Linked DNA regions of Homo sapiens: region 2 is linked to region 1. The links come from fine-mapping of genetic effects on gene expression. A gene starts in region 1. The other region holds a variant in brackets. All regions are shown on one strand. Distances are between the middles of the regions. Region 1 holds the start of RBM15B (RNA binding motif protein 15B). Region 2 overlaps RAD54L2 (RAD54 like 2).

Region 1 (11,060 bases):
TAATGTGGAGAGAGAGGTCAGGGCTTTGTTCCCTGTGGACGCAGCTCTCTGTTGTCATGTTCTGGATCCAGCAGGCTGCTCCCAAGTACAGATTTGGTAGAACTGGAAAGGGAGGTATTCTGGGAAGTTTTGGAGGATGGAGTTGGCAAAGCTAAGGAGTGAAAGCATTTCGGCCGTCTCTGTAGCTGGGGCAGCGGCCACTAATGTTTTCTGAAAGGGATTGTGACAGTGGACTTGAGCATCCTGGCAGGTTAGGGGTAGTGGAGCTTGTCTGCGTTTGTAGAAAGATACTTCAGAGGCCCCTAAAATTGGCCTATGGTTAAACTGTGTAACCACCAGGCAAGGTACCAGGGATTTCCACCTTTTCACTCACCCGCCCCACCCTGTTTTCCTTCCCACAATAAATAGAAGACCATAGTCTCTTTCTTCCTTTGATTTTGCCCAAATAACAGCTGCTCAGTTTGTTACATAGGTATTATCCAGCTAAAGTGACTTCTCTCCCTTAACAGAGAGAAGAGGGGACAAATTTGGTTGTGAAGTAAACAAGAAACACAAGACGGCTAAAACTCTCCAGGGGCAGGTAAAGCCCTGCTGGGCTCAGAAGCACTATAGAATTTGCTGTACACACTGAAGTGGGTCTGTGTCACACAGGTATTTCTTGGTCCTCTGGAGAGCAGAGGACTCACTCAGCTCTTTGCTTCATGCCTCGCTTTAATGGTAGTAAACACTTAACCAGTGGAATAGTCTGACTGCTGGTACTGATGGCATCAGAAGAAAACAGGTTAACAATCAAGTAGTGAAAGCACTATATTCTAGTCATTAACTCAACGGAGCCAGTCTCAACTCTGCTGGGAGCACCCACAGGTCTCTGTGGGGGAGACAGGGACTATAACAGGGAGGCAGAATTCAGGTTGGCTTGACAACACACCTTAGGAACATGTGCTAAGGGGCTAAGGAGGCATCAGCTGTCTTCCTTATTCTACCAGGGCTGAAAATCGGAGTCACTTAGGAGGCAGCATGAGAACAGTGGCACACCACCAGTGAGGCACATGTTGCCTTTTTGTCTTTAAGCAACACCTTAGACAGGGCCTGAACCCTGGGTGGGGGCACTGGATGCCTGAAGTAAGTAAGTTTTCTCAGTGGGGCAGTCTCATAAAATCACCAGGACATTGACCACCTGACCTCCCCTAACTAGTGCTGGCCAAGGCCTGAGAGTTCACAGAACCTGCTAGGTCTTAAGAGCCAAAGGAAGGAAGTGGTTGAGGGCCAGGAAAGAGAAGGAATGTCATGCCAGGGTGTTACTCCTCACCAAAACTTGGCAGTTCTTTTTGGGGCCATGGGACACCTTTCTCTGAAGAGGGGTTGGATAAGGCAAAGGTTGAAGTGTCTTCTCTAGGCACGTTTTCTAGCATGTTTCCTTTTACTTGGTTCTGTCTCACAAAGCTGGGAGGTAGATGATTCTTCCGGGTCCTGAGCACCTGCTTCATGAAGGAAGATAGGTAGCCCAGAGAAGAAGTTTTGGACTTAACAACATACCAAGGCAGCTCTGGCCTGTGACTCAGGCGTTTGTTGGAGAGCTGCAGGAAAACCACTGCAGTGTGCCTGCAACAGGACAAGACCCACTCCTGTTTCTGGCGGTACCAGCTACCCTGGAATGGTGGCGTGTCCTGCTGTACCCAACTGACTTGCTTAGGTACCTGGCAGCTGTGACCACAGCTCAAGTAAAAAAACAAAAACAGGCAAATAAATAAACATGCTTAACATGTCTTTGTGTTGCTGTTTTGTTATGAACGTGCTTGCTCTCTTGCGAGGCACCTGTCCATTCCACATCACCGAGGGGTCTACGAGAGCACTGCCAAGTGTTCCTGTGGACCAGCATGACCTCTCCACAGCCTGCAGTGAGCCCCAGCCTCTAATCTCAGGTGTCACTCATGCTACCTTATCCTAGCTCCGGTAAGGGAGCAGACCTGGAGAGAGGATGCCACGGCCAGCAGAACCTGGAGTTCCTGGTTATCATCTAGGGGCTCATTCGCTTACCAGAGCTTCTGTTCTCCTCAGCCCTGACAGTGTTCCCTGTTTGAACATCCAAGGTACCAGACACGCTGAAGAATGGCATTTGGGGTGTTCCATGGTGACAAAACTGTGTGCTCTGGTTTTCCTCCCTGGCCCACACTGTCCGCAGTACCTTCCTTACTTACTTGAGACAGGGAAGAAGACGGAATCTCACCCTTCTTCCCAGCTAGAGGGTACCTCCGCATCCCTTTCCTCCCCAACTGGCTTGAGTGGCTTCAAGCTCTAGCACTGCCTAACAAACAAACAAACACCTCAGTGACTTGTGATTTCCCCCCAGAAAAATATCTATTAATTATTTCCCAATGGTCTCCACCTCGGCATCAGGGCACAAGGTGTAGGCACATGCTCTGATCTTGCACCTAGGAAACCGTCATTATCAAGGGCATCCCCTAGTCCACTGTGCTCCCCGGTAAGTACTTCAGTCTAGAGGTTCAGTATCCCCCCACAAATCTCTAGGTATGACTGGACACGGGCCTGCTCTATTACCCATCACCCCTGAACGACCAGAGAAAGCCAAAAATCACAAACAACTAGGCAAAGTTCATGAGTAAATCCAAGGAAGGCTGCCTCCAACCCTCCATTCCAGTATTTGGACTCCCGGGCCCCTGGGAACCTGAGGCAACTCTGTCTCCCAACACTGGCTATCCCTGGGCTGAGTGAGGCTAGAAAGTAGGCCGAACCAGGAGCCTGGACAGATCAGGGGCCCCGAGACCCCCTGGCATCAACAGTGCACAGCTTCTCCTTGTACAAGACTACACAGCTGCTGAAGGCTACCTGCTGCCAAACATGCTGAGTGGGCACTCTGTCCCAAACAAACAGCCACAGCTCAAACTGATGATGATGGACACACACACGGTTTAAGGCAGAAAAAACCATCAGTAGCTGCTGACCACAGGCCTTGCGCTCACCCCATCCCTTCCTTTGCATGGGCTCTACTCAGGCTTGTGTGGCAGCGTCCACAGCCCAAACTGAAGCTTGCCTGCTGTCAGCCAAGATAAAAATGAGTGTAAGTAGAGTCCAGACTGAGCCTGAAGAATTGAGAGGCCGAGAGTGACCCATGCAGCAGTGGTGCTGGAAGGATGACGTAGGGCATTCGTGTACATGCACTAGGGATGTCTTCGATTCTTTTAGCTTGATTGATTAAACCAGGACTCTGAACAGGTTTAAAAATCCATCCTCTGTCAAAGGTTTTACTGACAACTTTCCATACAGTTGGTCAAAAAATAAAAAAATACAGAACCACAGCAGACAGTATCTTGTACACTAGAAATCAACATAACCGGATTCCCTTCTCATCGTTTAAAAAAAAAAATCCCCCAAAATCTAAGAACTTAGTTTTGGTGGTGGACAGGACTTTGATCCCCACCCAAATGAACCAAAATAACCCAGGAGATAATTCAAACCAAAGTGGTAGGGTAGAGAGGGGATCAGATTTTAAAATAACTGCTTTTGTGACACAAACATGACGCTGGGAAAGACAGGCTTGGGCTAGGCAGTGTCTCTGACGATGACTATCACCATGTGTTCTTCTTCTAGCTTGCCCAATGTCCTTAGTGCTGACTGGAGGTACTGCTGGGAAAAGTCGCAGGGTGGGAAGGCGTAGAGCATGCCTGTGCCGTCTCTGCCCTTGGACCCCCCCACTGGCAAGCTGATCACCCCTGCGGCCTGCTTCTGTTTCAAGTAGGAGACCAGGTTCCTGAGAAGCCGCCTCTGCAGACCGGGCTCTACTGTGGGCATCCCCTCAGTGCCAAGCCCACTGGGGGTTGCCTGGGTGGCTAAGAGGACCGCATAGCCGTTGGGGCTCCCCTGCTTGATGCGTCGTGTGACCTCGTCAAGCTTGGGCTGGTCCAGTCGAAGGCGCTGGGCGATCTTCAGCTGGGTCAGCTTGCTCCCAGAAGTGTGGTCTTTGAGGAGACTGCTGATCACCCCCTGGTCCCCCTCTAGGATATGCATAGACGTGGGGAAGCAGCTGTTTTTCAACACCAGAAGCCCATTCCAACCCAGCTGTAGTGTCTGAGCGTACTCTGAAAGATTCTTCAGCTTTTTGGTCTCGTGTTTTGGCTCTTCCAGAGGCTTGGGCTCGGCCTCTGTGGTCCGGTGATTGCGCTCGCTGTCTCTTGCCTTCTTCCCGTGGGAAGAGTCTGCAGCCTCGTGGTGGTGGTGGTGGTGGCCCCGTTCCTCAGCCCCATGTCTGCTGTTGCTGAGGGAGTTGCTGCTGGACTCCTTGGTCCCTTCACTGGAGTGGTTCTCCTTGCGGCTGCGCTCAGGGGTGCGGTCGGAGCCCCGCTCTGACTGCTGCCCACTGCCCTTGGTCCTACTCCGTTCCTCATATGGTGAATGGGTTGTCCTCCCACGGTCACTGGAAAGGCTTCTCCGTTTCCGCCTCTCTTCCCAGGGCTTGGGCAAACCACGGTCTCCATCTGCCCCCCAACGCTCACCACTCCGGCTGCGCACTGAGCGACTGTAGCCCTCAAGGCTGTTTCGGCGGTCAGAGCTTTTACTGGGGCTGGTCCAGTCCCCTTCCAAAAAAGTCCGGTCTCGGTCTGAGTACAGAAGGTGTGGGGGCGTCCTGTCCCGCACCAGGTCGGCGTCCAGGTTGCGGTGCCGGGTGTATCCATCTGTGAGCAGCTCATAATGCACAGGGAGTGGCGAGGGCTGGTACTGCTGGGGGTACCGAGTCTCCTCTGCTTTGGCAAAATCCACGCGGAGCCTGCGGTCTGGTCCACCCAAGGGAAAACCCCTCATTTTAGCACAGGCGGCCTGGGCTGCGTCCAAGCTCTCGTACTGAATATAGGCAAAGCTATCTCCTTTGACGTGATCAATGGTCCGAATGCTCCCAAAGCGGTCAAACTCTCGGGCCAGAGCCGCCAGTGACGTGTTAGGTCCCAGGCCACCCACCCAGAGACGAGTGGTGGGGTTGGCCTTGCCATAGCCTATCTTAATGGGGTTGCGACCAATCACTCGGCCCGACATGGCCACCTTAGCCCTATGGGCCATGTCCAGGTTCTGGAACTTGAGGAAGGCATAGGCACCGCCCTGGCCACGGGCAGGCCTCTTGATGACCACCTCCTCGATGATGCCATATTTCTCGAAGGCCCTTCGCAGCTCCACCTCAGATACGCTGTGGTCCAGGTTACCAATGAAGAGGTTGCGCGTGGCCCGCTGGTCATCCTCGGGCATCAGGTCCTCCTCACACACAGCTGGGTAGCCATAGGGGCGCCCACGGTCGTCGTACAGCCCGTAGTAGTCCAGGGCCCGCTCCCGGGACAGTCCCACGGCGGCGGCAGCAGCGGCATCCAGGGCGAAGGCTGCGGCGGCGTGACGGGCACGGGGCTCCCGCAGGGGCGGGGCAGCGACGGGGGACAGCGAGCGCTGCTTGTACTGGTAGCCTCCGTGTAGCGGGAGGTAGCCGAGCGGGTCGGCGGGCGCGGGCGGCCCTGGGGGAGGCGTGGAAGCGGCGGCGCTGCTGCTGCTACTTCGCCGACTGCTCCCGCCGCCGCCACGCAGGTACACGGGCTCTACCTTGAGCGGGCGGTCGTAGAGCAGCAGCTGCCGGGCCAGGGCGTGCTGGCGGGCCTCGCGTGCGTCCTGTGGGTGCCGGAAATTCACGTAGGCCACACGGCCCAGCTCAGGCGTGTGCGACAGGCGGAGGCTGATCTCGCCGAAGCGCTTGAACTGGTGGAAGAGCCGGTCCTCGAGGTGCTCGGCGGGCAGCGCGGGGCTCAAGCTGCTGATGAGCAACGTCTTGTACTCAGGCGCGGCCGCGGATGAGCCGGGACACGCGGGCTCGGCCCCAGGCGGTGGCGGAGGCGGCGGCAGAGGAGACGCGCGGGGCGACATGCCGGAGGCGCCCGGGTCCCCCGAGGCCTTGCCGCCGCGTCCCCCGCCGCCAGCGCCGGAGCCCGAGGAGCGCCCGCTACTCGCGCGGTGATTCGCGTCCCCGGTGCCGCGGCCGTCGCGATGCCCGCCCCCGCCGCTTCCGCTGCCGCGGGGTTTGTCGCGGGCCCGCGCTGGAACCGGGTGCTTGGCGCCGCCAGAGGCCTTGTGCGCCGCCCGCCGCCCGCCCGCCTCCGCCTCCCGTTCGCGCTCCCGCGGACGCTTGGCGGACGATGACGAGCCGCGCCCGCTCGGGCTAGAGTCTCGCTCGCTCTGCCGCTTCATGGCGCTGGCGCGGCGGGCGGGCGGCCCGTAGGTTTCTCACAGCGGCGGCGGCGGAGGCGGCGGCCGAGGAGGCAGCGCCCCCGGCGCCGCCATCTTGGACAAAAGGACTCGGCGCGGCGGTGGCGGCGGGGCGGGGCGGGAGCGGCGCCGAGGGGCCGGGCATTGCGTTATCAAGGTGCGCCGTCCTGCCACGTGACTCTGCGGCGGGCGGAGCAAGACCCGCGCCGGGCCTGCCTCATCGCGCTGCGTCGCCCAGTGCCAGGTGACCCTGTGAGTGCTGGGTGAGTGGGACCGGCCGCGCGCTCTGGCGCCACCGCGCGGCCCGCATGGCCGATGCTTGAGGCTACGCGGAGTGTAGTGAACCCTGAGAGGCCGGCGAGACGACCTAACGCTTTGTGCTCCCAGCCGTGCTTTGCCGCTCTGGGTCCAGCTATCTCCTCTTGCAGGCACTGGAGCCCGCGCTGATTGGAGCAGGAGTGGCAGCTTCCATGGCCGTTGGGATCTGGGGCATTGACCCAGTCAGTGGTCTCTTTATGTAGTATCCCCTCAGTCCTAGGACTAGGCTTGAGCAAACCCCACATCACCCTCGTTGGCATCTCCTGCCTGGGATCCGGCGTTGACGGCGCCAAGGACTAATGCATGCCTATCCTTAGACCCTGCCCAGGACCCAAGGCCCACATTCTGCGCATTCTCCACGTGCAGGTTCACCTGCAGCAGTCCCCGAAAAGGCCGTGAGGACAATTGCTGTCACGCAGGTAATAACCGAAAGCAGAGACAAGCCTGCAGTTGCAGTTGATGGAGTTGGAATAGACTCTTTAACGCCACTCTTGGGTCCCACCCTCTTCTGTGGGCAGATAGCAGGCTGGAAAGGTAGGGCCGTAAGAGCCAAGGATGAAGAGGCCATATGCACAGATAGTGCCAGCAGTTATCACACCTTGCCACGCTGACCCCTCGCTGGCCAGTACCCTCCTGTTCATCACCTTCAGGACGACCTCTTCTCCCCAGGTGAGGTGAGGGAAAGGGTGCCCAGGTGCTCAAGCCCATTGAGGAAGCTTTCATTCTCCAAGGACAGTTGCTGGAGCCATGGTAGAACCTGACCCAATTTCTGGCACAGAATCCTTGCGATGGGGAAGAGCAGACCAAGTCATGCCCTCTTCGCACAAAGAGAAAGCAGCTCCTGGAGTAGCTCAGGCAGGTGCAGGGGGAAAGGTCTTGGAAGAAAGCAATGGGTTCCACAGCAGCAAGGCCTCCTACAGGCAAACTGAGCTTAGGAGACACAAGTGAAGTGATCTGAGGCAAGACCAATTACTTGGAAAGCACTGGTTCTTAGTCCGTCCTTTCAGGTGGTTTCTACAGGTGTCTTCATTGAGCCACAGCTCACACTAACAACTGGGTTTCCTAAGCACCAGTGCCACAGAGAGTGGCTTAAGAAGCAGACTCCAGCAAAACCCTGGACCTCAACTGTTAGACTAATCTAGGGTAAACAAAGGCAAAAGGCAGCTTCCCACTCCCTCTTTGTATAAGCTGACTCCTGCCAGACTTGCAAAAACTGGAACAGACATCAGAGGCTTGGAATGGACAAAAGAGCAAGTAGGTGGCCAGGCCAACAGCATCTTTATAGAGATGTCAGTGCTGACGTGCACTGATTGAAGATATCCTTGTGGAAAAACCACACTCCAGACACCCTGTCTTGCTTGTACTGAGCCACAATATAAGGCCCTCCAATGTATCCCAGACTCACTCCTCCTAGAGCTGTGGCCTCCAGCTCTCTTGGGCGGGTAAGACAGATACTGTATCAAGGGGCAGGGTATCAAGCGCAGCACCCCCCGCCCCCGCCACCTCCTTTCTGCTGAGTGCCTGCTGCCCTCTAGTGGTACACACCCACACACATCAGCTGGCCCCAGCCCCTATGTCCTGCTCTGGTATTTTCAGCACTGGTGGGTTGAGAGATAAATGGGAATGAATAACCCCCCAAACTCTGCAACTGGAAAGCAGAAACTGGTAGGAGCCTCCTGGGGCAAAACCCCATTTTGGTATTCACTATAATTCTGCAAGGACAGCTAGAAATTTTTTTTCTTTAATAAAAAAATCCCAGACACACTTTGAAGTCCTAGAGTACACCAGCAACAGAAGGAAGGGAATCCCCTCATGGGGGTACTGTAGGGCCAGCATCATCAGGAAAGCTCCAGGCTTCACATCTGATACAGTATTGTCAGGAGCCCACTTAAAAAATAAATTACAAAAAGGCTGTTTTGGGAGTAAGCAGTTGAACTGTTTTTTCCCCCTCAGGTGCAACAGAGATTGAGCAGACTACAAATCGGTCCGTGCACTGGCTGCCTTGGGGGCATATTTAGGCATCAGTTCATTTATCTTCCGGATGTAGTCAGACTTTTCTGCACAGCCTTTGCATGTCTCCCCCCAGTCATCCAGAATCTTCTTCAGCTCTTTAACTCGGAGCTTCTTCAGGTCCACTGTGCTCAGGTCGATCTGCTTGTCTGGAGGAGAGAGCAGGGAGAGTCACTGACTGGGTGGAGCACCTGCAGTCCCCCAGTAGTCCCAGAGTATGTCACTCCCTGAACGGCCAAACCAGCCCTACTGGTTTCAGAGGAAGAGACATTTCCAGACACATTTACAGGCATGTCAGTGCCTACTGCCCCCACAAGAGGGAACTAGCCTCTTCACCAGGAAGGCTGGCTACATATTATGTCTACTACAGATATGCAGCGTGAACAAGGATAGGGACAGAGGCCACACTGTCCTTATAGGAGAAACATGGTTCCCATCTTCCAAGTGCCTCTGACATAGTCACCACATACTAACAACTCCAGGCTGGTGCCAAAGAGCAGCCCTGCTCAGGCCTTTGAGTTAGGAACTTACTCTCCATGACCACAGTGACCTGGAGCCAACTGGACCTGTACCAGGAAGACGCAAGTAGGTGAACACAGGTCCTTGGCCATTCAAGTTTTTCAGAAGAGGCCCTGACTGTTTCTGAAGACTGGGACTATGTACACCAGAGACCCAGTCAGCAAGAGAGATGCTGTAGTTCCTAACTCTTGGGCTTGCATGCTTGGACATAGTGTTTCTTTTCAGAATAGTAAAAATCACTGGGGCTTCAGAGCTTGCAGCCAGAACCAGCCTGTTAAACCCAAGTCGTACTATGTCCCTTCTCTGCTGAAAAACTCCTAATGCTCCTAACTTCACGCAGATTAAAAGCCCTCACCAGCCTGCAATGCTCTCTGACTTGCCATGCCACTGGACACCTTTATCCTGCCTGTATCCTCTTCCATTAGCTGGCCTCTTGGCTAATCCTCACCTCCTTCAAAGTTTGCTGAAATATCACTTCTTCAATAAGGCCTATTCTGACCTCCACCCACTTCCATGCCAGAGCCCTCCAGCATTTAGCACCATCTGTCATACAATACAACCCACTCATGACTCTAGCTCATCATTTTCCTCTCCCAGATGGGAAACAAACCCAGAAGGTGCACAGCATTCATTAAGAAAGGACTAGGCATACTCACCATACTTAAGCTCACATATCTGGCTGTCCTTCTTCTTAAGCTTCTCACAGATCTTCTCCACAGGGATGTGGTGGGCCAGAGGCTTTGATACCTCATTGATGATTTTGGTGGCTGCATCATCTGTGGCCCCGATATAGTAGCACTGGAGCAATAAAGGACAATGGCCTTCAGGAGGTGCTTGAGAGCCATCTCCTCCAAACATACTGACACCTTGAAACATCATCTCTCTGTAGGGCCTTACTTGTGTTTTGAGATAGGGCTCCCTGTCACCCAGGCTGGAATGCAGTGGCATGATCACGGCTCCCTGCAGCTTCAATCTGTTGGGTGGTGATCCTCCCCTCTCAGCCACCCTAGTAGCTGGGTCTACCGGTGTGGGCCACCACACCCAGCTAACTAAAACAATTTTTTTTTTTTTTTGAGATAAAGTTTTGCTCTGTCACCCAGGCTGGAGTGCAGTGGCGCAATCTTGGCTCGGCTCACTGCAACCTCCGCCTCCCAGGTTCAAGCAATTCTCCCTGCCTCAGCCTCCTGAGCAGCTGGGATTACAGGCGCCTGTCACCATGCCTGGCTAATTTTTGTATTTTTTAGTAGAGATAGAGTTTTGCCATGTTGGCCAGGCTGGTCTTGAACTCCTGACCTCAGGTGATCCACCCACCTCGGTCTCCCAAAGTGCTGAGATTACAGGTGTGAGCCACCACGCCTAGCCTAAAAATTTTTTTGTGCAGACAGGATTTCACCACTTTGCCCAGGCTGATCTCAAACTCCTAAGTTCAAGCAATCCTCCCACCTTGGCCTCCCAAAGTGCTAGGAAGACAGGCATGAGCCACCGCACCTGGCCCACAGCGGCATTTTTCGGTGCCCTGCCTGTACTGGTAGTCAGATTCAGCCAGTGTAAACCCTGGACTCTTAACACATGCTCAGTCCAAGCTGACAGCCACCAAATGAATTTAAGTGTCACCAGGGTTCAAACCTTTAACAGAGAGAAAAGCCAGAGACTGTCAGAGAAATTCAAGTTAGAAAACCCATTGCTTCACTAGGGCTTTTGTCTTGGATTCGGCCCTTGCCTATCCTGTAGGCACCCTGTCACCTTCTCCTGTCCACATACATGCCACACTCTTTCAGGCCTCTGGGCACTCACACTGCTGTTCCCTGTATGGGATGGTCTTACCCCACTTCAATGATAACCCTTCCTCAGAGACTTCTTGGCCACTCTAAATCAGCACCTGCTGGTCCATTTTCTTCATGACACCCAGACATTGCATTATTTGTGTGTCCGACTGTCACTTCTTTCCCCTGATATTCCCA
Region 2 (8,000 bases), 260 kb before region 1:
CAGCCTGGGCAACAGAGCGAGACTCTGCCTCAAAAAAAAAAAAAAAAAAAAAAAAACAAGAGCCGGATGGTTTTTGTAAGAGCTTTATAAGCCATAAGGTCTCTATTGTAACTCCTCAATTCTGCTGCTGTAACACAAAAATAGCGTGGCATGACTGTACTCCAAAAAATCTTTATGGACACTGAAATGTGAAATTCATATAATTTCACGTCACAAAATATTACTCTTTTGATTTTTTTTTCCAACCAATTGAAAATGTTAAACCCATTCTTATCTCGCAGATATTATAACAGGTAGCAGGCTAGATTTGACCCATGGGGCATAGAGTTTGGTGACCCCAGCTATAAACTAGGAAGACAGCAGTAAAGGGGGCTGGGTTCTAGACTAGGAAGAATCCAGTAAGGAGGCTGGGAATGGTGTTTTCTATGAGTCTGGGTATTTCATGGCACTTTTTCCCTAACCTCAAAGGTACTCTAACCCAATAGAAGCTAGGGCAAAATCTCCTTACTGAACAAAAAGTCTCAAAGAGCCTCACACAATCATGGGGCTTATTTAAAGGCTAATATGTAAAACAGGCTTGGATAGAAGACGTGGGTGCAGAAAAGAGGGGAAAAAAACAGGCTTAGATTGTGTCTCAATACTGTTTAGCCCAGCTTTTTTATTCCACCAATCTCATATCCCTCTGAAAGGAGGACAGAGGCAGATGTGGACTTTTTAAATTACCATATGCAAAAATTCTATCATGCAACCCATGTGTAATTCATCCACATAATACATATCCTATCAGGGGACCCCCACCCTGCTCCAAGCAAGTGGGTAAATGTATGTAGGCTTATAACCCATTCCACCGCTCTTTCCCTCCAATTTTGGTCTCCTTGTGTCTACTTGTCCCATCCCAAGATTCTCATAAAAATGACAGTAAGGGCCGGGTACGGTGGCTCACGCCTGTAATCCCGGCACGTTGGGAGGCCCAGGTGGGCGGATCATGAGGTCAAGAAATCGAGACCATCCTGGCCAACATAATGAAACCCCATCTCTACTAAAAAAAAAAAAAGTACAAAAATCAGCTGTGCGTGGTGGCGCATGCCTGTAGTCCCAGCTACTTGGGAGGCTGAGGCTGAAGAATTGCTTGAACCTGGGAGGTGGAGGTTGCAGTGAGCCGAGATCACGCAACTGCACTCCAGCCTGGCGACAGAGCAAGACTCCATCTCAAAAAAAAAAAAAAAAAAAAAAAAAAAGACAGCAAGATAGAGAAATGTAGGGACCCTAATTTCCTTCTTTTAAACCACTGACTAATACCCTATGGGCTCAACCCAACTCCCCTAAGCTCCTACAAATGCTATTTTCTCATTCAGTTCCGGAATGTGACATCCTAATGGGATGATTCCTATGACCCGTCTAGCTCAAGTCATATGTATTTATTCTTCTTCCCAGCCCAGCACTCTCAACCAAAGGCAGGGAACAGGTCCTTGGTCAGGCTCTTACCTTTTGTCCCACGGATGATGTGGATGCTCTCACCAGCATTAATTCTTGCCTGTACATCTGTGGAGCTGTTGAGTCCAGGAATAACAATATCTAGGAAAAACACAGATCTTAAATTTAGATTGCACGGGGCCTGACTGAAGGAGGGGGGAAAATTGCAAAGTCCCACATCTACCCCAGTTCTTCATTGGTTTCCCTACAGCCTCTCAGTGGGGCAGAGGTCCAGAACCAAGGAAGGTGAAGCAAGCAGGATCTTTCACAATTATCTAAACAAAGAATACTATGAAAACAGGAACTTTGTCAGAAATCTGAGCTGGTCATCGTTGCAATCAATTTCCCTTTATTTAATTAGAAATTCATAGTTTTTGGTGTGAAAAATGTTTTAGTTTAGATGGTTGTTTCTATGCATTTTTTTCCTCTTCCCCAAACTGTTTGCACGCATCTGCGCCACATCACTTTAGGCTCCAAAAATGGCCTAATCTTCTTCCTTGCTGGCATTACCCCACACCTGGGAAACAGTATTTTCAAGAATTAGTAGATAATAGAATTATATGGCGCTCTCTTTTTCTTTTCATGTGTTTCAAATTTTTTACTTAGAAAAATCAATTAAGATATTTTCATTAAAATTTATATATTGGCCGGGTGCAATGGCTCACACCTGTAATCCCAGCACTGTGGGAGGCCAAGGCGGGTGGATTGCCTGAGCTCAGGAGTTCGAAACCAGCCTGGGCAACATGGTGAAACCCCATCTCTATTAAAATACAAAAAAGTTCACCGGGCATAGTGGCACACGCCTGTAATTCCAGCAACTCGGGAGGCTGAGGCGGGAGAATCGCTTGAGCCCAGGAGTGCAGCGAGCCAAGATCATGCACTCCAGCCTGAGTGACAAAGCAAGACTCTGTCTCCAAAAAAAAAAATAATAATCAATTTATATATTATAAATATTGCTAAATAACAAGATAAAAAACAGGATCACAAAATGTTTTCCTTCCTAATCACACTGAATCACAGAACCAGCTCCTGGAGTGGATGGGTTGGCTACCTGCCACCACTGCTGACTGGCCCACCATGCTCAATTTATATCAAACTCGCAAAGGTAGACGCAAGTGACAATTCAGGTCTTCTCATTATGTACAAAGGTTGACAGCTGTCTTTTATACCCAGATGGGTCTACAATCAGGCAGGGCTCAGCATATTCACACCTCTATAAGAACCTGAGACCAACCCTGTATTCCAGTGACATTTCCACAATTCCTGCAGTGCTCAGAGTCTATCTCACCCACCAAACCCAAGAAAACCCAGTTATGTGTTGTTATTCTTAAGATATTTCACTAGAATCCAAATTCCTCAAGACCAGGGACTGTTGTCTTCCCTATTTTTTACCAAGAGTGCCAAATGTAGTAAGGCCAGAAATACAAAAGGTGTTTAATAGATACTTCCTAAATGAACAAAGTAATTTTAAAAGGGACAGCAGCTCTGCCACAGAGCCCAGGAGTTCCCACCTGTCGTGGTGACCACCTTCTGCACAAGGACTCCTGCACGCTGCAAGTAGTTGATGGGAAAGTTCATGGATGGATTTGTGCTGGAGGCAGAGCTTACACTTCCTCCCAATGGGACATGCCGGGGCATCATGGGGATGGGGGTGGACTGCACAGGACGAACACTGGCCACAGGCTTTTCATCACCCTTCAAAGTTGGCTGCCTGTAAGAGAAAGACAAGGACACTAAAAGAGTTTGGCAGAACAACTGTTACCTTTTCCAAAGGCTACAGAGCCTTTCTAGGCTGCCCCATTCTACACCATCAGTTGATGCTCAGAGAAGGATCAGAAGAATCTGCAGGGTCTGGTCAATTCAAAAGGAGACTAGAAGGCAGGACTCAGTTGCAGCAAAAGAGGCAGAGGGATAAAGTCTGTCAAAGTCTAAGGAGAATCAGATGTTGGTGGAATAATACTTTCTGGAGATGGGAGACAATATTTGCTCCTCTAGAACCTGGACTATCTACATTAGGAGTTAGTCCCTAAAGGGAAGTCAGGAAGCTGTCAAGATGCAATAAGGCAGGAAAAGTTCACCAGACCACAGCGTATGTTAAGTTGAGATGGGCAGAATTTTCCCCACTCACCCACGGAAAAAGGGCCATGTAACGACACGTTTAGGTGATCCTAAAAAATAGTCTGTTCCAACTTTAAACATCTTTACTTTCTCTCTGAAACCTTGAGTCTCAATAAGTAATACAGACACCTCTCTCTCTCTTCTGTATTACTTTTCATTGAGTTCTTCCTAGCTCCAGCCTGGAACAACCCTCAAAGTGCCCCTCCAGTCATGACAACAACAAAAGCAGCAGCCACCAAAGCAGTGTGTACAAAAGCCAGGCTTCTACTGATT[T/C]AAGATTTTTGAAAAGTCCCTGTCTACAAGCTTTCTGAAGTCTGCATCTTTCGTCTTTGGGCCTGGAGGGGGAAAAAAAAAAACCCTTAAGACTGTTATGTTCTTCCTCATCTGACTGAAGATTGGCACATAAAATAACACTTTTATACCACTCTGCTGTTGGAGCTGGTCTGCATGATGCCTCAATCACATTGCTCTTAGGTTTTTAAAGGCCCCTTTGGTCAGCCCCTTGGTCCCTGTGGACCTCCAAGTTCCCAGATGGGCCCCAGACCTGTGCTATCTGGCCTGTTTCCCCAGTGTCTTCCTAGGATGGTTTGGCAGGAGTTAGAGGCCCTGGTCAGGTATCAATGTAACAGAAACCCAGCCCAAGCCGCATACCCTGCAGGGGCTAAGACTAAGAATTTGGGTAAGAAGTATTCCTCACATGTACCCATGTGGATTAAAAAAACTCAGCAGGATCATGAACTCATCAAATGCTGTGAGAAGTTGGTGCCCCCACAGGGCCAGAGCTAAGCCAGAAACAAAGCTGACATCTCCTTATAGCTAGTCTGGACCATTTGTCACATCTTCTCTCCATGTGGCTTTTCTCTCACTGGGCTCAGGTTTAGTCCACTCCTGAGGTTACACAGAAAAGCCCAAAAAAGAGGGGGAAAAAAAAGAGGGAGGAATGGGTGGAGGAAAAGAGAAGAGACCATTCCTGAGCAATACTATCTTGGGAAATGACAGAAATAAAGCCTGAAAGTTTTGAAAGAGAGTGACTTTCTCTTTTGAGATTGAGTCCCACTATGTTGCCAAGGCTGGTCTCCAATTCCTGGACTCAAGCGATTCTCCCACCTCAGCCTCCCAAGAGGCTGGGACTACAGGTATGTGCCACCATGTCTAGTAAGAAAGTGACTTTCTACTTAAAAGTATCTTCAATTTGCTATACAAACAGCAACAAATGGCCGGGCATGATGGCTTATGTCTGTAATCTCAGCACCTTGGGAGGCCGAGGCAGGTGGATCACCTGTGGTCAGGAATTCAAGACCAGCCTGGCCAACATGGTGAAACACAGTCTCTACTAAAAATACAAAAAATTAGCCACGCGTGGTGGTGTGCACCTATAATCCCAGCTACTTGGGTAGCTAGGGGAGGAGAACTGCTTGAACCCAGGAAGCGAAGGTTGCAGTGAGCCGAGATCACACCATTACACTCCAGCCTGGGCAACAGAGACTCTGTACCCCACCCCCAAAAAAGACAACAAATCCACTCATAAAAGTCAATGTCTTACCTAAAACCTTACATGAGACTTATTTGGCAAGTTTTCCAAAATTTCCTTTGGAACCTCATTTGTCAAGTTTTTTTGTTTGTTTGAATTTTATTATACTTTAAGTTCCAGGGTACACATGCACAACGTGTAGGGTTGTTACGTATGTATACATGTGCCATGTTGGTATGCTGCACCCATTAACTCGTCATTTAACATTAGGTATTTCTCCTAATGCTATCCCTCCCCCATCCCCCCACACCATGCCAGGCCCCAGTGTGTGATGTTCCCCTTCCTGTGTCCACGTGTTCTCATTGTTCAATTCCCACCTATGAGTGAGAACATGCAGTGTTTGGTTTTCTGTCCTTGTGATAGTTTGCTGAGAATGGTGGTTTCCAGCTTCATCCATGTCCCTACAAAGGACATGAACTCATCCTTTTTTATGGCTGCATAGTATTCCATGGTGTGTATGTGCCACATTTTCTTAATTCAGTCTATCATTGATGGACATCTGGGTTGGTTCCAAGTCTTTGCTATTGTGAATAGTGCCGCAATAAACATACATGTGCATGTGTCTTTATAGTAGCATGATTTATAATCCTTTGGGTATATACCCAGTAATGGGATGGCTGGGTCAAATGGTATTTCTAGTTCTAGATCCTTGAGGAATCACCACACTGTCTTCCACAATGGTTGAACTAGTTTACAGTCCCACCAACAGTGTAAAAGTGTTCCTATTTCTCCACATTCTCTCCAGCACCTGTTGTTTCCTGACTTTTTAATGATCACCATTCTAACTGGTGTGAGATGGTATCTCATTGCGGTTTTGATTTGCATTTCTCTGATGGCCAGTGATGATGAACATTTTTTTCATGTGTCTGTTGGCTGCCTAAATGTCTTCTTTTGAAAAGTGTTTGTTCATATCCTTTAACCACTTTTTGATGGGGTTGTTTGATTTTTTCTTGTAAATTTGTTTAAGTTCTTTGTGGATTCTGGATATTAGCCCTTTGTCAGATGGGTAGTTTGCAAAAATTTTCTCCCACTCTGTAGGTTGCCTGTTCACTCTGATGGTAGTTTCTTTTGCTGTGCAGAATCTCTTTAGTTTAATTAGATCCCATTTGTCTATTTTGGCTTTTATTGCCATTACTTTTGGTGTTTTAGTCATGAAGTCCTTGCCCATGCCTATGTCCTGAATGGTATTGCCTAGGTTTTCATCTAGGGTTTTTATGATTTTAGGTCTAACATTTAAGTCTTTAATCCATCTTGAATTGATTTTTGTATAAGGTGTAAGGAAGGGATCCAGTTTCAGCTTTCTACATATGGCTAGCCAGTTTTTCCAGCACCATTTATTAAATAGGGAATCCTTTCCCCATTTCTTGTTTCTGTTCAGGTTTGTCAAAGATCAGATGGTTGTAGACGTGTGGTGTTATTTCTGAGGGCTCTATTCTGTTCCATTGGTCTATATTTTGGTTTTGGTACCAGTACCATGCTGTTTTGGTTACCGTAGCCTTGTAGTATAGTTTGAAGTCAGGTAGCATGATGCCTCCAGCTTTGTTCTTTTGGCTTAGGATTGTCTTGGCAATGCAGGCTCTTTTTTGGTTCCATATGAACTTTAGTTTTTTCCAGTTCTGTGAAGAAAGTCGTTGGTAGCTTGATGGGGATGGCATTGAATCTATAAATTACCTTGGGCAGTATGGCCATTTTCACGATGTTGATTCTTCCTATCTCTGAGCATGGAATGTTCTTCTATTTGTTTGTGTCCTCTTTTATTTGTTGAGCAGTGGTTTATAGTTCTCCTTGAAGAGGTCCTTCACATCCCTTGTAAGTTGGATTCCTAGGTATTTTATTCTCTTTGAAGCAATTGTGAATGGGAGTTCACTCATGATTTGGCTCTCTGTCTGTTATTGGTGTATAGGAATGCTTGTGATTTTTGCACACTGATATTGTACCCTGAGACTTTGCTGAAGTTGCTTATCAGCTTAAGGAGATTTTGGGCTGAGACAATGGGGTTTTCTAAATATACAATCATGTCATCTGCAAATAGGGACAATTTGACTTCCTCTTTTCCTAATTGAATACCCTTTATTTCTTTCTCTGGCCTGATTGCCCTGGCCAGAACTTCCAACACTATGTTGAATAGGAGTGGTGAGAGAGAGCATCCCAGTCTTGTGCCAGTTTTCAAAGGGAAGGCTTCCAGTGTTTGCCCATTCAGTATGATATTGGCTGTGGGTTTGTCACAAATAGCTCTTATTATTTTGAGATACGTTCCATCAATACCTAGTTTACTGAGAGCTTTTAGCATGAGGGGCTGTTGAATTTTGTCGAATGCCTTTTCTGCATCTATTGAGATAATCATGTGGTTTTTGTCTTTGGTTCTGTTTATGTGATGGATTACATTTATTGATCTGCATATGTTGAACCAGCCTTGCATCACAGGGATGAAGCCAACTTGATCTTGGTGGATAAGCTTTTTGATATGCTGTTAGATTCTGTTTGCCAGTATATTATTGAGGATTTTCACATCGATGTTCATCAGGGATATTGGTCTAAAATTCTCTTTTTTTGTTGTGTCTCTGCCAGGCTTTGGTATCAGGATGATGCTGGCCTCATAAAATGAGTGAGGGAGAATTTCCTCTTTTTCTATTGATTGGCATAGTTTCAGAAGGAATGGTACCAGCTCCTCTTTGTACCTCTGGTAGAATTCAGCTCTGAATCCATCTGGTCCTGGACTTTTTTTGGTTGGCAGGCTATTAATTATTGCCTCAATTTCAGAGCCTGTTGTTGGTCTATTCAGGGATTCAACTTCTTTCTGGTTTAGTCTTGGGAGGGTATATGGGTGCAGGAATTTATCCATTTCCTCTAGATTTTCTAGTTTATTTGCATAGAGGTG

The links.
Region 2: its variant is fine-mapped to the expression of RBM15B in whole blood (INTERVAL, PIP above 0.99).

Annotation. Positions count from the first base shown.
Region 1 is chr3:51,386,574-51,397,633 of GRCh38, reverse strand. It overlaps RBM15B (RNA binding motif protein 15B), which reads right to left and starts at 6,349. Exons shown (of 1, transcript NM_013286.5): 1 at 1-6,349. The coding sequence starts at 6,234. The coding sequence ends at 3,562. It overlaps MANF (mesencephalic astrocyte derived neurotrophic factor), which reads right to left. Exons shown (of 4, transcript NM_006010.6): 3 at 9,756-9,897; 4 at 8,237-8,729. The coding sequence ends at 8,545. It also overlaps a transcript of DCAF1 not described here. RefSeq lists enhancers at 3,827-4,334, 4,335-4,840, 6,826-6,875 and silencers at 5,736-5,795, 5,906-5,985, 6,026-6,505.
Region 2 is chr3:51,651,155-51,659,154 of GRCh38, reverse strand. It overlaps RAD54L2 (RAD54 like 2), which reads right to left. Exons shown (of 23, transcript NM_015106.4): 20 at 2,985-3,184; 21 at 1,486-1,575. Among named protein-coding and RNA genes, the nearest start is that of TEX264, 16 kb to the left of the region's middle. The variant T/C (reference allele first, on the strand shown) is at 3,865.